Linked DNA regions of Homo sapiens. The protein of the gene in region 2 interacts with the protein of the main gene of each other region in a pairwise test. Each region holds a gene or a part of one and is shown on either strand. Other genes may lie near its edges. The genes, in order: CAGE1, PPFIA1, PPFIBP2 and PPP2R5A.

Evidence for each region.
Region 1: the proteins of PPFIA1 (region 2) and CAGE1 interact in a two-hybrid assay, tested with the Homo sapiens proteins (one large-scale study listed by BioGRID).
Region 3: the proteins of PPFIA1 (region 2) and PPFIBP2 interact in a two-hybrid assay, tested with the Homo sapiens proteins (one study listed by BioGRID).
Region 4: the proteins of PPFIA1 (region 2) and PPP2R5A interact in binary tests that used the Homo sapiens proteins (3 or more experiments, as listed by UniProt).

The regions. Positions count from the first base shown.
Region 1 is NC_000006.12:7,374,701-7,380,924, forward strand, and holds part of CAGE1 (cancer-associated gene 1 protein), read right to left. Parts: intron 4,321-6,224; coding exon 3,917-4,320; intron 1-3,916.
Region 2 is NC_000011.10:70,380,110-70,385,937, forward strand, and holds the end of PPFIA1 (liprin-alpha-1), read left to right. Parts: intron 1-1,978; coding exon 1,979-2,037; 3' UTR 2,038-2,049; intron 2,050-2,893; coding exon of another isoform or gene 2,894-2,919; 3' UTR 2,920-4,287; downstream 4,288-5,828. UniProt on the Homo sapiens protein: May regulate the disassembly of focal adhesions. May localize receptor-like tyrosine phosphatases type 2A at specific sites on the plasma membrane, possibly regulating their interaction with the extracellular environment and their association with substrates.
Region 3 is NC_000011.10:7,515,287-7,521,510, forward strand, and holds part of PPFIBP2 (liprin-beta-2), read left to right. Parts: intron 1-6,224. UniProt on the Homo sapiens protein: May regulate the disassembly of focal adhesions. Did not bind receptor-like tyrosine phosphatases type 2A.
Region 4 is NC_000001.11:212,343,446-212,349,669, forward strand, and holds part of PPP2R5A (serine/threonine-protein phosphatase 2A 56 kDa regulatory subunit alpha isoform), read left to right. Parts: intron 1-2,357; coding exon 2,358-2,488; intron 2,489-3,901; coding exon 3,902-3,961; intron 3,962-4,943; coding exon 4,944-5,052; intron 5,053-5,743; coding exon 5,744-5,797; intron 5,798-6,224. UniProt on the Homo sapiens protein: The B regulatory subunit might modulate substrate selectivity and catalytic activity, and might also direct the localization of the catalytic enzyme to a particular subcellular compartment.

The DNA.
Region 1 (6,224 bases), on a different chromosome or scaffold from region 2:
CTTTATGCTGCCGATAGAGGTCTCGAGGAGGTTATAAAAAGACAGTAGGCCGGGCGAGGTAGCTCACGCCTGTAATCCCAGCACTTTGGGAGACTGAGGTGGGTGGATCACCTGAGGTCAGGAGTTTGAGACCGGCCTGGCCAACATGATAAAACCCCATCTCTGCCCAAAATACAAAAATTAGCCAGGCATGGTAGCACATGCTTATAATCCCAGCTACTTGGGAAGCTGAGTGAGGCAGCAGAATCACTTGAACGCAGGAGGTGGAAGTTGCAGTGAGCTGAGATCACACTACTGCACTCCAGCCTGGGCGATAGAGCGAGACTCTGTCTCAAAAAATAATAATAATAAAATAAACAAATAAAAATAAAAAAAGACAGTAATTTGTGGTAAGAAATGGTGAAATGAATATGACATTAAAAACCCAGGGCCGGGTGCAGTGGCTCATGCTTGTAATCCCAGTACTTCAGGAGGCTGAGGCGGGTGGATCATGAGGTCAGGAGATCAAGACCATCCTGGCCAACATGGTGAAACCCCATCTCTACTAAAAATACAAAAATTAGCTGCGCGTGGCGGTGTGCACCTGTAGTCCCAGCTACTCGGGAGGCTGAGGTAGGAGAATTGCTTGAACCCTGGAGGTGGAGGCTACAGTGAGCCGAGATCACGCCACTGCACTCCAGCCTGGGCGACAGAGCGAGACTCTGTCTCAAAAAAACAAAAAACAAACAAACAAAAAAAACAAAAACAAAACCCAGGCCAGGCACAGTGGCTCATACCTGTAATCCCAACACTTTGGGAGCCCAAGGTGAGAGGATTCCTTGAGACCAGGAGTTGGAGACCAGTTTGGGTAACACAGTGATACCCTATCTCTTCAAAAAAAATATTTTAAAAATCAGTCAGGTGTGGTGGCATGTGCCTGTAGTCCTAGCTCCTTGGGAAGCTGAGGCAGGAGGATTTCTTGTGGGCCATGATCACACTGCTCTCCAATCTGAGTAACAGAGCAAGACACCTTGTATCTAAAATAAATAAATAAGTAAAAACCCAGTAAAAGGTATCTGTAGTGGTGTGCTGTATAATTCTCTGGAATTTAGAGACAAGGACTTCTGTATTTTGTTTTTTGAGCTCATCCTTCTGCAGAACCTTGTATCTTAATGGTTTTTCATTGTTCTGGGATAAAGATAACTATCATTACTGAGACCTACAAGGCCCTAATATCTTGCTCTTGATATCTGCTGTGCTTTAAATGCATCCCCTAAAGTTAACGTGCCGGAAGCTTGATCCCCAATCCCCAGTGCAACAGTGTTGGAAGACGGGGCCTAGTAAGAGGTGAATAAAAATGACTAAATGTTGTTATCACAGGAGTGTGTTAGTTATCACAAGTGGATTTGTTACAAAAGTGAGTTTGGGGGCTGGGAGTGGTGGCTCACACCTGTAATCCCAGCACTTTGGGAAGCCGAGGCAGGTGGATCGCAACGTCAGGAGATTGAGACCATCCTGGCTAACACTGTGAAACCCTGTCTCTACTAAAAATACAAAAAATTAGCTGGGCGTGGTGGCACACACCTGTAATCCCAGCTACTGGGAAGGGTGAAGCAGGAGAATTGCTTGAACCCGGGAGGCGGAGGTTGCAGTGAGCCAAGATGGTGCCACTGCACTGCAGCCTGGGCGACAGAGCGAGACTCCATCTCAAAATAAATAAATAAATAAATAAATAAATAAATAAATAAATAAATAAAATAAAAGTTAGTTTGGCCTCCACTTGCTCCCTCGATCTCACCTTCTTTTGCCCCTCCACCTCCCACCATGAAATGACAGCACAGAGACCCTCGAGTGATGCTGGCACCATGGACCTAGCCTCCAGAACCGTGAGCCAGATAAATTGTTATTCATTATAAATTGCCCAGTCTGTGATATAGTTGCAGCAAGATGAAATGAACTAAAGCAGTATCTGACCCACACCACCTCTCTGTCTTCATCTGCTGTACCCCTCCTCCTTCCTCCAACTCTGATCTTCCTGGACTCAGGGCTTCCTTCAGGTCCTAGTAGGTACCATGCTTCCTGTGGCCACAGGGTTTGCAGACGTTCTTCCTTCTGTATGGAAGGCTCTCCTACCCATGGCTGCCTAATTAACTTCTACCCATCCTTTAGAGCTCAGCTCAATGATCATTTCTTCAGGGATGCCTTCCCCAGACTCCCTGATCAGGGTAGTGTCCTTATCATAGATGCCCAACCTACTTACATATGCAGCACTTATCATAGTTGCAAGTTTATCTGTAACTTGATATAGCATCATAGCATAAATAGTAACTTTATATAACATGCTCTACATATACTTTATATGTAACTTTATTCACCTTATTGATCTTATTATAGTTGCAAGTTCACATTTATTTGTGTGATTGATTAATGACTACCTCCTCTAGTAGGATGCTGTCTTCATGAGGACAAGAACTACATCTTTTTGTCTATTTTCTAACCATCACCTAATGTGTAGTACAGACCTGCCATGTAATAGATGCCTAAAAGTATCTATTGACTGAATGAAAAATGGCTAAATGCAATGAAAAGAGGAAAGAACAATCTTGCGAAACCCTATTTAAGCTGATTTTTAAAAGGTTGTTTTCCAGAAATCAACTTGGACAAATAAAGTCCTTTTAAATGCTGTCATCTACTTTCAAAAAAATGAAAATGCTCATACTTGTAAATAAGACATTATAGTCATAGTGTTTCCCATCAAACTCACATTGGAAAGGTATTATTGGCCAGGTGTGGTAGCTCACACCTGTAATCCCAGCACTTTGGGAGGCCAAGGCGGGTGGATCGGCAGTTCAAGACCAGCCTGGCCAACATGGTGAAAACCCGTCTCTACTAAAAATACAAAAAAAAATTAGCCAGGTGTGGTGGCACACGCTTATAATCCTAGCTACTCAGAAGGCTGCAGCAGGACAATCGCTTGAATCCAGGAAGCAGGGGTTGCGGTGAGCCAAGATCATGCCACTGCACTCCAGCCTGGGCAACAGAGTGAGACTCCGTATCAAAAACAAAACAAAACAACAAAAAAAGAGAAAAGGTATTACTTATACTATTCTTGAATTTTATCTATTTTCCCATACCAATTCCTAGTATTTTTAATTTTTTTGTTCAGAAAGTACACAGAATATATACTGTCGGTATCTTCAGTGCTCTTAGGATACTACATGTGTGCTCGGAATCAATAAACCAAATGATAAACTAATATTTTCACTTTAGTAGAAAAAGTAGTATTTTTTGCTTGTCAGTAGAATTCCAATATGACAGAGAAATCTTGTTTTTCTTGAAAAATGAATTAGTGCCTCTGCACTCCTTCCTCTTCTTGACCTTTCCATCAGTGTAAACTCTGCTACTTCCAGCCATTTTGATTCAACAAATATAAAAGCTTATTATATTCAGACTGCTCTGTCTACACAGTAGCCATTCTTTTGTTTCTTTACTTCTCTAATAAACTTGTTTGTGGTGAAAAAAAATTATGGTAAAAAAAGCTTATTATATTCAAGGAAACATATAGACGCTGTGGTGCATAAGAGGGTGAGTAAGACAGTCCTGATCCTTAGAGAAATTACCATTTGGTAGAGCTAATCCTCAAGTATGGACTTGATTTTACTAGAAAAATTTATTTCTGAATTGGCTAAGATCTCAGAATGCATTTTCCCCAGAGAAGCAAAGTCCCTCATGCTAACTAGGTGATTTAACACTACTTGGAAAAGTCTCAGATTATATATATATATATACAATTTTTAAAATGCATCCTTTAATACTCCACAGGCTTTACTGACCATCACAATCGTACCTCCTCTGCTTTATAATTAACTCTCAGATGAACTAGGTTAGAACTATTCTCTTTATCAAATGGTTTTACAATATTATTGTGTACACTTTCCTTACATAAGAAGCTTGGAGGTTGGCTAGGGTTGAGGGCAGATTCCTTGGCAATACTTTTAGCCAGTGACTTTTCTGTAAATTTCAGCATCTCTCCACTGCAGTGGATTAGAGGCGGGCTTCTAGGAGGAGGCTGTCTAAAATACTCGTTACCAAGTTGGTCTGTATTTGCAGAAACACTAGTTTCCATTGGATTTTCTTCCTTAAATGAGTCTTGCTTTATATTGTTGTCTTTTGCATAATTATACACTTGACTTTGAAATTCTGGCTTCTCTGTCATTTCATCATCAAATGCTTCTACCCAGTGAAATTTGCAAACGGTTTCAAATTGTCTCAAGGAAGATATGCTGATGGTGTCAACTGGCTGAATTAGTGCATTCGTTGAGTAATTTTCAATGTTGTTATCTCATAAGAAAGAGAAAGAAGGAAATAAAAACGAGTAGACCATGAACTTGGATGGTAACAGTTATATTTATATTTATCAAATAAACTGCTGTAGCCACTTAAAAATTATATATTATTTCAACCTTATTTACTGTGTGAATTTTAGCATGGTTTTGTGCTAGCAAACAAAACAAAACTTTTTACATGGGGGAAAGAAGTCCCCAAATGACTGCTAGGAAAAAGTGTGTTATATGTAATTCTGGTCAAATAAAATTACAATAAATTTCAAGAGATCTTCAAAATTCTTTTGTTGTACTGTAATTTTAAGATGTTTTAAATTATACAATGTTTCAAAAGGACAAGGATAGTATAATAGAAAACACATATAAACTTGCTTAATCTCACAAAAATCCCATGATGTCAGTACTGTTATTATCCCTATTTTACAGATAAGGAAACTGAAGTGTAAGAGATGTTAAAGTCACTTGTCCAAAGTCACAGAGCTGCTAAGCAGTGCTGCTGAGATTCTAGACTACTACTTCTAAATGCTATGCTATACTATTTTTCAATATGACAAATTATGCAGATGTAATGTTTTTTAAAATCAGGAGCAAATAAGAAAACAGAATGTTACAAATTATTGATCCCTTTTATCTAACTTTCCTCCTCCCCAGAGATAACCAGTGTACTGAAGCCCATATGTATTCATTCTTCCCATTCCCATTTTACTTTTACTACTGATTTATGTATCCTAAATAATAAAATCAACATAATCTTGCCAAAGAATAAAGTTCCCAGATTTCCTCATTTTGTGACACCCTTAATGTCTCAGTACTTTTTTTCACAGTACCTCTGGACCAAAAGGAATACTTAAGTTCCATTTAGTAAATAATTAAGTTCAAACTAGTATTTGTCCTAAGTTATTAGCTGTTTGAAAATACACATAAACTAAAAGAAAAATATAATATTTTATTCTTAAACAACCACACTTTACTACTTGGATGTACACTGTTAGGCACCGTACAGCACCTCAAATCGTGGAATCAGATTGGAGACCACCACTCTCACTTCCTATTCCACAATGATTTTCATACGGGACTTGCTTTTTATTATAGCAACCTCCAAAAACCTACCTTTACAAATAAGACATCATAGGAAGGACTATAGTATGGGTTTATAGTGAAAACTACAGCTAACAGATTGTGGGGGTCTGATAGATGTCCAGTGTCACTGTTTCCCTCAAACTCCAAAATACCCTGCAACACTTTAGGTGAGTGATTAATATATAGTATTGTTTTATGTGCTTTTATATTTTACATAAATAGCATCTCACTCTATCTATAGCCATATAAAAGTCTTGGACGCAGTGGTTTACGCCTGTAATCCTAGCACTTTGGGAGGCTGAGGTGGGTGGATCACCTGAGGTCAGGAATTCGAGACCAGCCTGGTCAACATGGTGAAACCCCGTATCTACTAAAAATACAAAACTTAGTGGGGCGTGGTGGTGCACATCTGTAATCCCAGCTACTCAGGAGGCTCAGGCAGGAGAACCACTTGAACCTGGGAGGCGGAGGTTGCAGTGAGCCGAGATCATGCCACTGCACTCCAGCGTGGGTGACAGTGCAAGACTCCATCTCAAAAAAAAAAAAAAGTCTTTATTTCACACAAAATTTTGCTTCTGAGGCTTAGCCACATATATACATATATATGTAGTTCATTCTACTGAAAGATTACACTTTATTCCTTTTTTGTTGGCTATTTAAGTTGCTTCTAATTTTGCCCTTAAAAACAGCACTGCAGTGAACATGTTTCCTTCTATGCCAATGTAAAAACTTTTGGCTAGGTTCTGGGGATACACCTAGAAGTGAAATTGCTGGATTATAGAAAATACATATCTTCAACTTTACTAGATATTGCAAAATTAC
Region 2 (5,828 bases):
ATGAAAAGTAAACCTAGGCCGGGCGCGGTGGCTCACGCCTGTAATCCCAGCACTTTGGGAGGCTGAGGTGGGTGGATCAGCTGAGGTCAGGAGTTCGAGACCAGCCTGGCCAACGTGGTGAGACCAGCCTGGCCAACGTGGTGAAACCCTGTCTCTAGTAAAAATACAAAAAAATCGGCCGGGCTCGGTGGCTCACGCCTGTAATCCCAGCACTTTGGGAGGCCAAGGCGGGAGGATCACGAGGTCAGGAGATCAAGACCATCCTGGCTAACACGGTGAAACTCCATCTCTACTAAAAATACAAAAAAAAAAAAAAAATTAGCTGGGCACGGTGGCAGGCGCCTGTAGTACCAGCTACTCGGGAGGCTGGGGCAGGAGAATGGCATGAACCCAGGAGGCGGAGCTTGTGGTGAGCCAAGATCACACCACTGCACTCCAGCCTGGGCGACAGAGCAGGACTGTCTCAAAAGAAAAAATTTGCCAGGCATGGTGACACATGCCAATAATCCCAGCTACTTAGGAGGCTGAGGCAGGAGAATGGCTTGAACCTGGGAGGCAGAGGTTGCAGTGAGCCGAAATCATGCCACTGTACTCCAGCCTGGGCGACAAGAGCAAAACTCTGTCTCAAAAAAAAAAAAAAAGTAAACCTAAAAGGTATAGGGAATTTATTATAAAGAAGACTTTTTACCCTTACATTAAATAACTCAGGCACAAGCCTGCTAAAGGGATTATTATTATTATTGAGACAGGGTCTCACTCTGTTGCCCAGGTTGGAGTGCAGTGGCTCAGTCTCGGCTTACTGCAACCTCAGCCTCCCAAGTAGCTGGGACCACAGGTGTGGTCCCATGCCTTGCTAATTTTTTGAATTTTTTGTAGAGATGGGCTCTCACCATGTTGCCCAGGCTGGTCTTAACTCTTGGGCTCAAGCAATCCTCCTGCCTTGACCTCCCAAATTGCTGGAATTACAGACGCGAGCCACCGTGCCCAGCAAAGTTGACTATTTTAATGGCTTTTTAATTAAGGGAATGTGGGGTAAACTCCAGCAGGTCTCCCAGGTTCTTAAGAGTCAGAGGGTTTGTGAAGATCATCTGTCCTCACCAACAGTCCCAACTGTCTTAATGTCTTTGCTGGAACCATGCAGGATGTTGATTAAGTGTTCCTGGTATACCTGTGGGAAAACAAAAAACATAACCGGGAGCAGCCAGTACCTGCTTCCGATTTGCAAAAACTTAAAATCCCAGTTGTTAATGGAAATCGGGCTTACTTATGGCCACACTGTGTTTCTTGAACAAGAACCAAAATCTGTGGTCTCTATGATTAATATTTCTGGTAGGAACTGAGACTGGGCTTCAGTTTTTAGATCAGCTTTCACCCCACTCCCTGGCCAACGCCCCACCCCTGCAGCCAGATCTCTGCACCTGCTCTGCTCCTCCCCAGGAGAAAAGGGCACCGGCTTCCCAGACACCCAGCTAGTGCTGGGTAGCAAGGTTCTCTCCCTCCTCTTAGACTGGTCTTGTACCCGACGTCGTTGGCCTCTGCGCTCAGTGGGGCTGGGCAGCATCAGCAGTGCCGCTTGGTGTTTCCTTCATACCAGTGTTAGAGATGGAGCACTTAGGGCAGGGAGAAAGCCCCATTGGTCTATGAATGCAGAGTTTAGTAAGAGATAAAGGGATCACTCTAAGTAGGGGTCATTTATGCAGATGTACATTTTGAAATTGTTACTGTACCATTTGGTGCTTGGTATTTCGGAGTAGTGTTCCAGAGTCTCCCGGGGCTCTTTGGGAGCTGGGGAGAGCCACCACTGGGTGACACTTGGATCTCTCTGGCTCCATCCCGCCCACTCAGGCAGCTCCCCTCAGGTCCCTCCGTAGGCACTGCTGTAGGTGTGAAGATGTGTGTCTACTTGTGCCCTCATGTGATGTTCTAAGACTAACTGCACGCTGTGTTTGCACGCTTCCTCTCGTGGCTGTTGAAACAGGCAATGTATCAGGAACACAGAGGTTGGATTCTGCTACAGTCAGGACTTACTCCTGCTAAAGTCTCCTGTTGGTGAGTAGAGAGCACCACAACCCCTAGAGATGGCTCAGAGGCACAGCAGGAGTCATCGGAGCTGCAGTGCCAGACTAGGGGTGTGGACCATGAAAGCCAGTGCAGTTTTTGGGGAATTTAAAATATATATAGACACAAGCTCTCCGTACCCATTAAGATCATTTTGTTGTTACAATTGATCATAAAGAGGTTAGTGTGTCCTCTTTTTTTAAGGAAAAAAATGTATTTTCACCTTTTCCTTAAACCTGAAAATGCTGACTCATTTTAATTGTCTGTGGATGTCATGGGGGTGGAGTGGGGAGGAGAGCAGAGCATGGCAGAGAGCGTCAGGGGAGAGTCTCTCCTCCTGACGTCGTTATGCACATTGCTGTGATTCCTAAGCTTGCTTTGTTTTAAATACACATTCTTGAATGAAACAAGCCCAAAGTTTTGTGGTTAATTATATATTATACTAAGTGTGACACTAATAGCCTTTCAGTTTGGAGAGACTGGTTCTTAAAACTGCGGACTCTGGCTGGTGAGTGGCCCGCCCTCTCCTTGCTGTTCTAAGCAATTTTAAGGTCTCCGTTGGAATATTTGACTGGTTTGTTCATCTTTTATTTGTAATTGGTAACATGGAGACGTAAGCCAAAATGAAGTCAGCCAAGGAGCTGTCTCATTGATGTGCATAGCCCTTGATGTTCTAGCCAGTGATTCTCAGAGCAGCTACGGCACAGAAAGTGAGGGGTCCTGGAGGGGAGGGGTCAGTGTCGGGGGGACGTTTGGGCCCCAGCATCAGAAGTTCCCGTTCGTCAGTATGGCCCGGCCTGTACTGAGTGGTTTTTTGTTTGTGTTTATTTTCCAGTTTACCCACACTACTTCTACAGATGATTATGCAGCATTTGAATCCAACAAAGACTACATTTTGGAATCCAGTGGAATCTTTAATCTTGTTAATACTTGTTATATGGACCCTAAGATATTTTATTACAGAGTTTTTAATTAGTGAAAAATTCATGAATACCATAGAGAAAATATTTTAGAATTTAATGTTTCTTATATTTATGTAAACTTATGACTCTTCATTTATATAGTTACTTACTTTTTCATGTATATCCAGGCTATAAATATCCTTTCAAATCATGTTCTTATACCTAATTTTAGTCTTTCAAATGAATGTACTGTAATGCTTGTATGTATAAATCCTATGAATAGAGGGCTTTTGTAAATTATGCATTTATTGTAATTATCATTAATTTTTTAATGATAAACCATGACAAAGGATTTTACGTTTATAAAATTATGACAGAAGCCATGTGCATTATCCTTTACGGACGCAGCCTAGCTCTACAGCAATCATCCTGAAATAAGCATACCTAATTTCAAGCAATTGTTGTATTTTCATGACTGACCTTAACTGTACTTTTTCTAGCAAGAGATGCTTTATTCTGCAGCATGAACAGATTTAAAATGGCTGGTGTTAAATATCAGCTCCTAATAAGATGTGGACTGAAAACACTATCACAACACTATGAGAAGCCCCTAGCACTGGTTAACGCTTTCCTAGCCTAGTCTCTGGATTTGGGGAGCTTGTCTTCAGTGGCTGAGACTGTGAGCTGGGAGCAGTTCTCTCAGCTGGAGAGACTCGGGATGGGGTAACCTGGGGACCAGTCTAGCCCCTGCACCCTCTTCCCTGCCTCTGCTCCTTGGGAGCGGGTGGAGAGACACCCATGTGGCTCCCCTTAGGGCCAGCACCAAGCACCACGCTCTCATCCTGCAAGTCGGCGCACACAGTGGATGAAGGCAGGAGACCCAGAAAGCAGTGCAGTGCAGCTCTAATAAAGGCCTTATTTTTCTTATGTAAATCATCTTTTTACATTTGTTTGTAAACATGTTTAAAGAACGAACCTAGTGGGACATTTTTAGACTTTGATGCTCTAGCCATTTTGGATTGTGTAAGTTGCAGATGTGGCTTTTACTTTTTAAATGGCATATTAACAAGCCAGCAAAGTGTGTCAGACCATGGCGTGGTATTTATTGTGCAGCAGATCCAGAGACAGAGGCAGCCTGTCTTTTCAGTTGGTTTCTGCTTTTAATTTACTTGTACAATTCATTGTTACTGTTCTGTTTTTCTATTAATCTTTTGTCAACTTCCTGATTATGTAACAAAGTATGTACAGTCTACTTTTGAACTATTTTTATCACAGTATTATTTATTGCTTTCTTTCAATAAAGTACTGAAGCATTTTCCACTGCCAATGAAGAATACTGAGAATAAGCTCTAACTGTTTTGGAAGGCAGTGTCACCATATGGAAATTGTATTACAGAAGTCAATTGACAGAATAAAGCAGCCAGGAGATGAAGTGCAGGTTCAGGGCGTCATCCTGCCCGCTGCTCTGGAGGTCCCGAGCCTGCATCACTGCAGGAGACAGGTGCCTGGTGTTAAATTGTTAAATGCAAATGTGGGGGCTCACATACACAGTCGGTGGGTAGGGCCCAAAGGCAGAGCCTAGGCCGTGGACCGCGCGCATGCACGCATGTCCCTTAACACCGTTTCCCAGCTCTGCTTCCTTCCTCGGTGCTGGCTTCACACTCCCACCTGCTCTCCCTGCCTGCTCACAAAGGTGGCTCCCAGGCCTGCACCCTTCCACACTGATGGCCTCTGGAAATCAGGAAGCCTGGTTCCCTAATAGCTCACATCCGGTCCTGAGTTGTGAAGCAGCCCAGGGTGGCAGAGGGGAGGCGACACGCTGACAGGCTGGGGGAGTCAAGCAGGGCCCACCCATGGAAGTTGGTGAGCTGAGGCTGAAGGGCTGGAAGCTGATGCCCAAGAGGAAAGCCAGACACCAGCAAGTGTCCCTTCCCCTCCTCCCACCTCAGTGTTGCCATTGAGCCTGGGATTCGCAGAGCCCATGGCCACCACCACCCCACCTGGAGCAGGCATCAGCGGCCACTGCCGACGTCACCTTGGTCTCCGTTTCCTCATTCTGTCTCCGTTGCTGACACCTCGTCTGAGTGGCACGTGCTGTCACGTGGGTCAGTGTGTCCTGGGACGTTTCTCTCAGGCAGCCATCGGGTGTTCAGTGCTTTCCTGTTTCGAACCTGTGTTTGCTGATCTTCCTGCTTAATGTAGGGAAAGCCTTGTTTTCTGTACTTTCTAGTTCTTGAGGTTAACTTCAGTGTGAGCTTTAAAACATAATGTAGTGCCTCCCTGCTTTTTTCCATTTAATAGTCCCTTTTGGCTGAACAAAGCCAAAGGCATGCGTCGAGTATCTTAAAACTTCCAGAAAAAAAGAGACTGGGCAGGGTGTGGTGGCTCACGTCTGTAATCCAGCACTTTGGGGGGCCGAGGTGGGCGGATCACGAGGTCAAGAGATCGAGACCATCCTTCCCAACATGGTGAAACCCAGTCGCTACTAAAAATACAAAAATTAGCTGGCCTGTAGTCCCAGCTACTCGGGAGGCTAAGGCAGGAGAAACGCTTGGACCCAGGAGGTAGAGGTTGCAGTGAGCCAAGATCGCACCACTGCACTCCAGCCTGGCAACAGAGCAAGACTCCATCTCAAAAAAAAAAAAAAAAAAAAAAAAAAAGGGACTGGGGGCAGTGGCTCATGCCTGTAATCCCAGCACTTTGGGAGGCCAAGCTGGGAAGATCACTTGAGGCCAGGAGTTCAAGACCAGCCTGGGCAACGTAGTAAGACCCCCTTCTCTACCAAAAAAAAAAAAAGTGAAGACATTTTAAAATAAAACGACACTTGGCATGCAAATAGGTTTGACGTCTAGGACCGTTAATCTTCAA
Region 3 (6,224 bases), about 63 Mb from region 2:
TTATTAGTAATACTATTTTAAGATTTGGTGATGTGACAGTTGTTAGCTTATTGCTACTGGAGAGATAAGCTGCTTACCATGATGCCTTCTTTACTGGGTAGCTAAGGGAGATGCGCTTTGACTTTAAAAGAGTAAGTGGAATGAGATCAATGACATGAAGGCGGTAGGAACAAAGTTATGGGAATTCCTGTCTTTCATCTGAGCAGGGAAATCTGGGATAATTTTAAGAAAGGGTGATGTGATGGACCTCAAAGGATCCCTCCTGGGGTTTTTGAGGCAGAGAAGGGTAGAGTGTGGCCTGGGCTGTGACAACTGTGTGGGCAGGCAGGCATGGACTCACCATGAGAAGTGGCCAGTGGTCCAGCTTGGCTCTTATGTCAAGTGCTAGTCAGGAAAGCTGGTGACAAGGCTGGAAAATAGTCCCAGCTGTCCAGTACAGAAGTCTGGACTTGGTCTGAAGGCACAGCAGGGGACTGACTGATGGTTCTGTGAACTTCTCAAAGTCAAAGACCTTGGTCCTTGACCCTCCCAATTCCTAGCCTGATACAGAGAAAATCCAGTAAATATTTGTGGAGTGCATGGTCTGACAACACTGTAGAGCAGAGCTTCTCAAAGTTGAGAATCCTGTGGGGATCTTGTTCAAATGCAAATTATGATTCCATAGGTCAGGGGTGGGACTTGACATTCTGTGTTTCTAACAGATTCCCAGGAGCTTGCTGATCATTTCCCTATGTGTAGCAAGGATTTAGAGTAGCAGTTTGCAAACCTGGCTATGCCTCATAATCGCCTGGGGAGTTTTGTAAAACGTTCAGATTAAGTAGTCTGGGATGTTTTTACCAAGTTCCCCCAGGTGATTCTGTTGACAAACCCGAAGGCAACTGCTGCAATGGCAAAGTTCTGGGAGTGTGGTGGGAAGCAAACTCCAAGGGAAAAAGACAGTGGGGGCGGCGAGGCCGGATAGGAAACCGGGAGGCTGATCCAGGGTCAAAGGGATGAGGCCTTATTTTGGGCCTGAGAGAGTGATGAGGTGGGGACAGGTAGGGAGACTTCGGAGAGATAGAATCTGTAGGACAGAGGACTAGGGAATGGGACAGTCTCTAGACTGATTAGATGCAATGAGAAGTGAGGAGGGAGAAACAATGCTGGGAAGATTCAGCTTTGGGCCTGAGGAATGGTATGGCCTTTAGACTGTAATGTTTAAGGTAAAGTTTATGAAAGGTTCTTGTATTGGTTCGAACCCCGAGAGCCTGCCAACAGACAACATGAGGCGGTGTGGGGCAACGTGCTGTTTTAACGAGCGCCTGGGTGCAGGTGGGCTGAGGCCTAAAATGGCGTCAGCACCAAGTGAGGACGAGGCAGGGGTTTTATAGTTTCCTGTAAACAAGAAGTGTCTCAGTCTGATGTAACTTCTGCACAGTACCCAGACGGCCCCTCTCTCTGTCTTCAAGGGGTACGTGTCTTCCAGCCAGGGTAGGTGTCTTCTGGCCGGCTGTCTTCCTGCTTCTGCTGTCTTGCTGATGCACACTGCTGGCGCAACTGGCCTTGCACCTTGGGACTGGGCCTGAGAAGGGAGGAGTTACTCATCTCTTCAAGCTTTCAGACCCCGGGGAGAATCTTTCATTCCTGTCTATTTGGTTATAGTAAAAAGGGAAAAGGGGTGACTTTCTCAATAACTACTTCAGGCGTGACTTAGGGGTGGTGTGGGCTCCTTGGAAAAAGAAAAACTTAATTTTTAGGGTATTCTTGAGAGATGTGTTGGTATCCATCGTGTCGTTGTAGCAGGAGCATAGTCTGAATTGTCTGGTGGCTAACTGTAGTTTCAATAAGAGTTTTAGTGGCTTTTATTATTAGTGGGATAACACAGGGGAGAAAAAGTGATGAAGATTACTGTCCCTACCAGGGTTTTAAATCCTCCTAAATTAGAGAACTGTTGTCCGGCTGCTAGAGTGAGAGCTCGAGTGAGGGTGATGAGTTCAGCTTTTTGGGAGGTGGTGCCTGGGAGGAGCAGATTGGCTTCAATAGTGTGGGGTCTTTAAGGGTAATGTGGACAGGGGTGTGGTGTTTTGCAACTGAGGGTGTGGAAATATCCCTAACAGCGGGGTTAACTACAGATAGGGGTAAGGAAAGGTTGCATGTTTTAGGGTGGGAGGTTGGAGGAGCAGAAGAAAGCTAGAAGCCTCGGAGGGGTCTGGGTTGATGCGTTGGGTACTACGGGGAATGTGGAAGTGGAGAGTAGTGTGGAGTTTTGAAAGGATGTCCCTGCCTAGGAGCAGAGTTGGGAATGAGACCAGGTTTGGGGTGAAAAAGTGAGTGAAGGAAAAGGTGTGCAGGAAGCAGAAAAGTGGAGGGGTGGCTCGGGGTTAGGAGACTTGTCCATCAATTCCCACAACAGAGACTTAGGAGGACTGGGTGGGTCCTGAAAAATTAGGTAAAGCAGAGTAGGTCACCCATGTTGATTAAAACCATCAGGGTTACCCTTGGCTCGGATGAAGTGATGGTAGTTGCCGGGGCATCCATTCCAGGGCACCATCAGTCTTCAGCGGCAAGGCAAATGAGATCCGAGTAGGAGGTTTTGGCCTGCTCAGGAAGGGATGGGGGGCGGTCCCTGCAGGGGCCGCTCATAGTCCGACTTCCAGTGGGGTCCTCCGCAGAGGGGGCACGGCCTGGTGGGCTTACCTGGGTATGGGCATTGTCTGGACCAGTGGCTTTCATTGCCGTACTTGAAACAGGCGCCAGGTGGAGGTGGATTGCTAGGAGGCTTCTGTGTGGAGCTGTGGCCCCGTGGGCCTGCAGGGCCCCTGATGGCGGAGGCAGGCATTTGAAACTCTGCCTGTTTTTGCCTTTTACTTTCCTCATCATGATTGTTAAAGACTTTGAAGGCTAAATTAAGAAGGTCTTGTTGTGGGGTTTGAGGGCCGTCGTCAAGCTTCTGAAGCTTGCACCGAATATCGGGAATGGATTGGGAGATGAACCGAAGGTTTAAGATAGTGGTTCCTTCTGGGTTGGCTGGGTCTAGGTTGGTATATTTTCTCATGGCTTCAGTTACATGAGAGAGAAAAAGGGCTGGGTTTTTGTCAGGACTTTGGGTGATTTCTGGAAGTTTTTCATAGTTTACCACTTTATGGGCACCCTTTTTGAGTTCTGCAAGGAAACACATAATCGTGTGGTCTCGATGGCAGCATCTAGAGGCCCTGTCTTGATAATCTCAGTGGGAGTCCTGGTTGGGGACTGCCTCTGCACCAGTAGGCTTGGCAGGAGCTTGTTGATGAATTGTGTCAGCATGCACCTGAGCTAGGGTCCAGACACAGTCCTGGTCTTCTGGGGTGAGGGTGGAAGAGGGGATAACGTAGAGGTCATGCCAAGTTAGTTCATAAGACTGGGTAAGGTACTGAAACTCCCTGATATAAGAGGTAGGGTCGTCTGGAAATGAACCGAGTCTTTTGTTAATTTGAGAGAGATCAGTGAGGGAGAAGGGAACATGAACTCTTAACAATACCTTCAGCTCTTGCTACTTCCCAAAGGGGACACTCTAGCACTGGCGCTGAAGTGAGGGTGGGGCATGAGCCAAAGATGGCGCTCGAGCGAGTATGGGCGGGAGAGAAGGAAGAAGTCAGAAGTCGTTCCTGCTGAGGGTTTGAAGGGGAAAGGGGGTTTGAGTTGATAAGCAGTGGAGGACAGATAGGGGCGTAAGGTGGCGGGATGGGTTTACAGGCTTCAGGAGAGGGCAGTGAGGAAGGAGAATGAGTACAGGCAGTGCTAGAGTTGTCCTCAGGAGAGGACAGTGTAGGAAAAGAAGTGGGTACTGCTGACTGGGAAGATGGTGGCTGGGAAGATGGCAGCTGAGAAGATGGCGACTGGGAAGATGGCAGCTGAGAAGATTGCGGCTGAGAAGATAAAGAGGAGGCTTGCGGGGTTAAAGAAGATGGTTGAGAGGGAGAGGTAGAGTCTGGGAGGAATGGACAGCAGTCTGCTGGATCTAACGGGGAAAAAGAGGTATGGTCGGGAGGAGAAAGGCGATCAGGGCTGCGAGAATGGAGGAGAAGGATTTGAACAGGTGAGCAAGAATTGCAGAGGTCGGGTTGTGATCTGAGTGCCAAAAGGCCTGGAAATAAGGAATTTCTTCCTATTTCTTCGGTCGTTGGCAATACTTGCTTAAATCAGTTAAAACTGTAAAGTCGAATGTTTCATTTGCCGGCCATTTGGACCGTTATCTAATTTGTACTGTGGCCAGACTGAATTGCAAAAAAAGAAAAGGCGCTTAGGGCGGATATCTTGCCTGAGGCCTAAGGTTTGCAGGTTTTTTATGAGGCAGCCTAGAGGGCTGTTTTTTAGAATGGAGGGCCGGGAGTTTCCCATAATGAAGGGTAGGCACAGGAGAACAGGGAAAAAGGAGACAGTCCTGGACAGCCGGACGGAGACGATAAAAGGAGCGATCGTCACCACTGCCTTTTTCATTCCTGGAACGGGATCAAATGGCTTAGAGGTGTCCCCCTAAGACCAGATGATCAGCGAGTGCCTGGCACACGCTGGAGCCTTTTTGGACCAACGTTGGATTTTCGGACCAGAGAAACCAAAAGAGGCCGAGCACGTTTTTCCCTGTTAACCAGGTTCCCGGGGAAGCTTACCAGTAGGTGAGATCAGTGACTGATCTGCATGCACAGAGAGGCGACTGGAGGCTAAGGAGCTTCCTTTGTCCAGCTGCTGTGGCCTGCTTTCCAGCATAGAGGGGTAGGTCCACGGGGGACACAGACCCGAGCCTCTCCCAGGTTTCGGCACCAGATGAAAAGTTCTTGTATTGGTTCAAACCCTGAGAGCGCTCCAACAGACAACACGAGGCGGTATGGCGCAACATGCTGTTTTAATGAGCGCCTGGGTGCAGGCAGGCTGAGGCCTAAAATGGCATCAGCACCAAATGAGGACAGGGCAGGGGTTTTACAGTCTCCTGTAAACAAGAAGTGTCTCAGTTTGAGGTAGCTGCTACGTGGTACCCAGACGGCCTCCCTTTTGGTTTTCAGGGGGTACGTGTCTTCCGGTTGGGGTGGGTATTTTCCGGCTGGCTCTTTTCCTGCTTTTGCTGTTTTGCCGACGCACGCTGCTAGCACAACTGGCCTTGCACCTTGGGACTGGGCCTGAGAAGAGAGGAGTTACTCATCTCTTCAACCTTTCAGACCCCAGGGAGAATTTTTCAGTTTAGAAGTGGTTTTTTACTTGGCCATAAGATTTTTTTTTTTTTTTTCCTGAAATGCAAATCTGTTCATGATGCTGTCGTGTTTGAAATCCTCTGGTGGATATCCTAATGCAAAATATAAGAAGGAAGCACTAATATAAACACAACTGATAACACTTGTTCCATTCTACAGCCTGTTCATCCCCATTCAAGATGTGACATTCAGTCCCCATTTGGTGTGGGCACAACTAGGCTGAAACTTTTGGCAGCTTTGTTTATTCCTGAGTCACTATTTTCCCTGCGTCCTTCTTCTTCAGAGGAGCTCCACCTCCCTTGGACTTTATGTTTCTTAGTATCATTTTTTGGTTCCAATGCTTGATGGCACCTATGTGTCTCTGTCTTCATGGAATCTATGTAGTTCTAGGAAAGGTGGGCTTTATCCTTTATACACCCTTAAAGCCAAGTCTTGTTTGACTGTGGATCTTCACAAGCTTCATTCTTATCTCTCACTCATCTGGTAAATAAGCCTCTAAAAGAGGCTGTCCTAGAATAATCTGTTTAGCTTTAGGCCCAGATCTCCTTAGTGCCTCAAGTTCCAGGGGACTGCTGACTCCGAGCTTTGTCTTCAGCAAATGTATGATTTCTGTTTGCCTTAAGGTCGTTGGCTTGGTTCTCCCTGGTTATTCTTACTTTCACTTCCTCTCTCTGTCATGTTCATATGTACACATTTATGCACACTGAAAGCTGAGCATTCATTGTGCTTGATGCTTTTAATCACCCTGTTCTATGTTGCATAGTAATCATGATCCCTAACATACCTGTAGATGGGAGGCCTAGACACAGAAGGAATAGGACTGTCTCTCTGATAGGATAAAATACACCATCCTTGTATGGCATTCAAATCTCTACAGTGGTGGGCCCTACTTTAGCTCTCCAGCTGCCTCTCCACTGTTCCCCAAACTGAGAAGCTGAGTAATTTCTATTCTTTTGTGCCTATCTGCATTTGCATACACTATTTTATCTTCCTGGAAAGCCCTTTTGTCTCTATTCTGCAAGA
Region 4 (6,224 bases), on a different chromosome or scaffold from region 2:
CTACTAATGTGAGTTTGGTATATTTAGAGCTGATCTTTGGTCATTCATAACTACCCTTGACCTCATATAAAGTATTCTGACCTGTTGCTGTGAAGGATTGATAAATGAAGAACATTGTCAGCCTAAAATATTTCCTTCAACCATTGAAGTAGCTCTTCATAAACTATAAAGAAATATTAGGTGTGTATTAACAGTAACATATACATTTTAATCATGACTAAAAATTACATTAAATGGAGTTATGTTATTTTGGTAATTGCAAATGAATGCCTGTTTATTTCCTTGTGCAGCTCTTGTGTGGGATACATTAGGGAGCTCTAGTAATGCCATATGAAATTGTATTTAATACAGTAACAGGTTGAGGGGAACAATTGCCTTAGTGCTTTGTTAGTCTAGAGCTTGAGGTATTTAAGCTGCTGTATTATTTTGTGGTGTGAGGGGAGCAAAAAGAAAACTGGTGGGGCAGGATCTGTTTTCTACCTTCTACTTTAAATGCTTGAATTATCTGAGAAGCTAGGGCCCAGTAATTGCTTTTAGCAGTTTATATGGCTGTTTTGCTCTTGTTGCCCAGGCTGGAGTGCAGTGGCTGGATCTTGGCTCACTGCAACCTCGGCCTCCCAGGTTCAAGCGATTCTCCTGGATCAGCCTCCCAAGTAGCTGGGACTGCAAATGTGCCGACATGCCTGGCTAATTTTTGTTTGTACTTTTAGTAGAGACAGGGTTTTACTGTGTTGGCCAGGCCGGTATCAAATCCCTGACCTCAAGTGATCCGCCTGCCTTGGCCTCCCAAAGTGCTGGGATTACAGTTGAGAGCCACTTTGCCCGGCTGCCATTTTTAATTAGAATAATTTGATGTGAACTTATTAGATATATTAACAAAAATTCTCATACTCCGTAGATATTTTTTGCTGGAGTCTCATGAGGGCCTTAACAGCCTAGCAAACAAAGAATGGAAACTATAAGTATGGCAGTTGTTTTGGGAGATATAAATATGATTTAAGTCATCCACTCTGGTTTCAGATGCATGTGTTAGCAATTGTATATAATTCAAAACAAAATGGAATAAGAACTTCTGATGAGGTTCAGAGCTTGCTATCTTTATTGTAATTATAAACACGAAAGTTCAGAACATAAAATTCCTTGACAGCTTTACAGATACTTGTACTCTAGAGAGAGTATTTTATATTTTTCTAAGAAAATCCAATGTTTAAAATACAGTGTTTTTTTTGACAGAAGAAATTAAGTTTCTTTACCATTTTAAATGGAAATTTGAGATTTTGACTTTAACTTTTTCTAAAGTCTCTTCTCTCAGGTTTTGCTGAAAAGTTGTGCAGAATATAGGAGTACACTGATTGGGCCAATTGAGGTATAGGAGAGTGCTGACTGTGGAACTGGTTTAAAATTTTTCAGCTATTTGCTAAGCTGAAAAATCTATGGGCTGGGCATAGTGGCTCACGCCTATAATCCTGGCACTTTGGGACACCGAGGAGGGTGGATCGCTTGAACTCAGGAGTTTGAGACCAGCCTGGGCAACATGGTGAAACCCCGTCTCTACCAAAAAATATATAAATTAGCTGGGTGTGGTGGCATGTGCCTGTAGTCCCAGCTAGTTGGGAGGCTGAGGCAGGAGGATCTTCTGACCCCAGGAGGTCGAGGCTGCAGTGAGTTGTGATTGCATCACTACCCTCCAGTCTAGGCTACAGAGCAAGACTGTCTTAAAAAAAAAAAAAAAAAAATTTGGCCTCATCTTTTAGTCCAGTGTTATTTTATATATGATTTCTACTCTATTAGTATGTATCTGCCAATATTTTATTCTAATAACTGAATGTTAATTTTTCAAATGTCTGCATGGTAACTGTCTTGAATTTATTGTAAATTCACAAAAAGAAGTCTTAGTATATGTACATCTTTCTAGTAAACTAGAAATATACATTTACACATGGATCTTTTTAAGACTATTTGATGACTTGCAATCTAAAAACTTAAACGATTTTCTATGTAGTTTTGACGATCAAAAAGCATTAAAAATCCCAAATTTTAACACTCCAAAATTGTGAGCCTCTTTAGTATTCAAGAGTAGGATTGAATTTTAAAATCAGTGGGAAGGTAAAGAAAAATCCACTTTTTGAAATATTTATATTTATTGTAAATGTCATATTTTGAAGTGAAATAAGTGAGAAGAAATATTTCCTAAGCTTTTCCTCACCTTCATTACTTAGCAAGAATAAAGTCAGTGTGGTAAGGAAGAACTCTAAAAAATTTTTAAAAGATGTCATGGATAATCTTTAAGATCAAAATTAGAATAAAGCTTTAGCTCGATTATTTTTTAAAAGTAATTTCTCAGGTTTCTTTTAAAGCTCCTGGAGCTTTTTGATAGTGAAGATCCCAGAGAACGTGACTTCCTGAAGACTGTTCTGCACCGAATTTATGGGAAATTTCTTGGATTAAGAGCATTCATCAGAAAACAAATTAACAACATTTTCCTCAGGTAAATTAATCATTTATTGTATATTGCACCTTTTCCTCCTACATATCTTCTTGTATTCAAGTTCTTTTATTTTTATTTGTTTTTTTGAGACAGGGTCTCACTCTGTCATCCAGGCTGGAGTGCAGTGGTGAGAACATAGCTCATTGTAGCCCCCATCTCCCAGACTCAAGCAATCTTCCTCTCTCAGCCTGCCAAGTAGTGAGACTACAGGTGTGCACCACCACGCCTGGGTAATTTTTTTGACTTTTAGTAGAGACAAGGTCTATGTACTGTATGTACGTAGTATATATATGTAACATATATATGTAACATAGTATATATGTGTAACATATATATGTAACGTAGTATATATGTAACATACTATGTATGTTGCCCAGGCTGGTCTTGAACTCCTGAACTCAAGCAGTCCTCTTATATGGGGCCTATCATTTGCTTGTAGTCATCCCTCAGTATCTGGGGAGGATTGATTCCAGGGCCCCTGCTAATAGCAGAATCCAAAGTCCCTTATATAAAATGGCACAGTATTTGCATATAACGTCCACACATCCTCCTGTATACTTTATTTCTAGATTACTTACAATACTTAATACAGTGTGAATGCTGTGCAAATAGATGTTATTCTATATTTTAAATTTGTATTTATTTTTCAAAAATATTTTTGATCTGTAGTTGGTTGAATGCACAGATAATGAAACCTGCGGATACAGGGCCAAGTGTACTTTATAAATATTAATCTGTTAAGTAGTTGCTTCAGATCAGGAGATTTCATAACAACACCCACATTCAAGGTTTGGTTTGTTTAATTAATTGAAGATCTGGCAAAATTTGGTTACTATTCCCACATTGCAACAATTAGAGATGAGTAATATCTGCCTCCTCTAGAGTGAATATCTTTCTCCAGTTCTCTGTCATCACTTCCTAAGCCCATTTCAAATATCTGCCCTATTATATTTATGTCTCCCTGCTTTAAAGGCAGCCCTAATCTTGGAAAGCTATGCAGCCTATATAGTTAGAGGTGTAAAGAAATTCTGATTAAAAATGGCTTTATTACATATGGGTCTTTTTCTCTTGGATTTCCCTATAATTAGAGGTTTCTTATTTTAAAAAGTATTTCTTTGAGGAAACTTATCTTTCTTATTAATTATTAAGTTGAATATTCCAGGTGAAATGACAATCTGTTATCTTCACATATGGCGAGTTTTGGCAAAGGCATATGTAGTTCAGTAGGAAACATCTTCTTTTTTAAGATTGATATGAATTAACTGTTTGGGGCAAAACTGCTTATAAGACCCAAAACATGCTTGTGTGTTTCTAATAGCTGTCCTTTGGATTGATTTCTTCACCCTCCTGCCTGTTTCTCTTAGTTTTCTGAAGTTTGATTTTGATTACATCTTGTCTTTATTTTAAATTCAGGTTTATATATGAAACAGAACATTTCAATGGTGTTGCTGAACTTCTTGAAATATTAGGAAGGTAGGTCAGGTTTTTTTGTTCTTTTTAAGAATTAAGTAAGTGAATGTTTTATGTATTAAAATCTTAGCTGGGGTTGGAGAAATTATGTCATATTTTAGAGTTTAAATGTAGAACACATAGTTTCTCAACTGAAGTCTTTTTTTTTTTTTTGAGACGGAGTTTCGCTCTTGTTGCCCAGGCTGGAGTGCAATGGCGCGTTCTCGGCTCACTGCAACCTCTGCCTCCCGGGTTCAAGAGATTCCCCAGCCTCAGCCTCCTGAGTAGCTGGGATTACAGGTGCCTGCCACCACACCCAACGAATTTTTTAATTTTTATTTTTAGTAGCGATGGGGTTTCACCGTGTTGGCCAGGCTGGTCTTGAACTCCTGACCTCAGGCAATCCACCCCCTTCGGCCTCCCACAGTGCTGGGATTACAGGCGTGAGCCACCATGCCCAGCCTCAGCTGAATTCTTATTACCTTTTGCCATAACACTTTGCCTTCCTTATTCACTACGTATTAGTATTAAGAGAATTTTAGACCCTTCTGTTACTATTTAGACAATGATTTTAGTTTCCTTTATTAATAGTAGAAAATGATTGTGGAGAGAACTACTTCTTTCACGTTATCCAACAAAGTAAGAAAAATTACCCATTTACTTCAGAAAAATATTGAACATTCTAACAATATTGTGGTACTGACTCTCCTGGAGCTTTGGGGGCAAAAATAAAAGCAACAATGCATAAAGTGACAGGTTTGATAGAAAATGAAGATAGAAATTACTTGGGAATTAATTGACAGTCCTAATTTTCTTTTGGAATCATCAAATGACTTAGAGGAACAGACTTCATAGTAATAGTCTTCCTAAAGTAGTTTGAAGATGAGCAGTCATACAACACCAGGATTGAAGCATAGCACTGTTCCTTATGTACTCATGGATATGACAGCTTTTAGAAACAAAGTAGTAACTACTTAACCCTTCCCCTGCCTTTTTTTCCCTCCAGTATTATCAATGGCTTTGCATTGCCACTGAAAGCAGAACATAAACAATTTCTAATGAAGGTTCTTATTCCTATGCATACTGCAAAAGGATTAGCTTTGTTTCATGCTCAGGTAAGTTTCAGAAACATTTCAGATGAAATGAATATTATTTCAAAGGCCAATATAAAGGCAGAGAAATTGAGAAATACTGAGATGACAGTTTTAAGTATAATTAAGCAATTTGCTTACAAAATTACCCAAAGCAAATTTTTCTTATTTTAAAGTATTTAGTTGTTAAGTAAGACCAATTATTTAATTTCTATATCTACACTTACAGTTTAAGATACACACTTTCCTCATATTATAGTCCAGGTCTTGACCTAATTATGTGACTTTGAATAAATCCCACATATCTACAGAATGTTTCTTCCAGCTGCAATAACCTAGACCTAGTTAGAGAGATTTTGGTCTCTTCTATTAATATTTAGAGAATAATATATCAGCATAGGTGTACATGTAGAAACATGCTGAAAAACTAAATTGTTAGCTCTAGTCTTATTTCAGTTAACTTTATAGTCAGAAATTACTACTAAAAATGTTTTTTAAACTTGAAGTTACTTTCAAGGCTAAAAAGTTACACAATTGTGAGTATAGTTTCACGATTGAGGTATTTCACAATTTCATTCACAGTTGTGAGTATATTTTTATATATTGGAATAATTTATCAAAATGAGGTAGTCTAAAAAATATTGGCTAAATATAAAAATCCTACATTATTAAATGTTATCTCACTAATATTTATAAACTGTCCCTTACCTTTTAGCTAGCATATTGTGTTGTACAGTTCCTGGAGAAAGATACAACACTAACAGAGCCAGTAAGTGTTCTATTTATTTTCATGTTTTTGGTCTGCATTAATAGCATTTCATTGTAGCTTTCGTTTTATAGCCTTTATAGTTATTAAGTAGAATAATGTACGTTAAGCTAAAATCATTTAGAAGAAGAAATGTGAGATTAATCTACATTAAAAGAAGGGGTTAGGAGGGGAGAGTTCTCGTGAGTTATGTCTTGAATAACCGAAATATAGACTACTATTAATATGTAGTAGTTAAGATGTACGATGATAGGATCAGATGACCACAGTGAAATTTTATATGCATACTGTCTTCACCAATAATCTTTTAAATCTTCATTCACCTTTTGGAATTAAAGCATACTTCGAGGGTCCCAAAACTACTACTCCCTTGAATTTTGTTTTGTTTTTAATAATAGAATTTTTGCCACTCATTAACAATAAACCACTT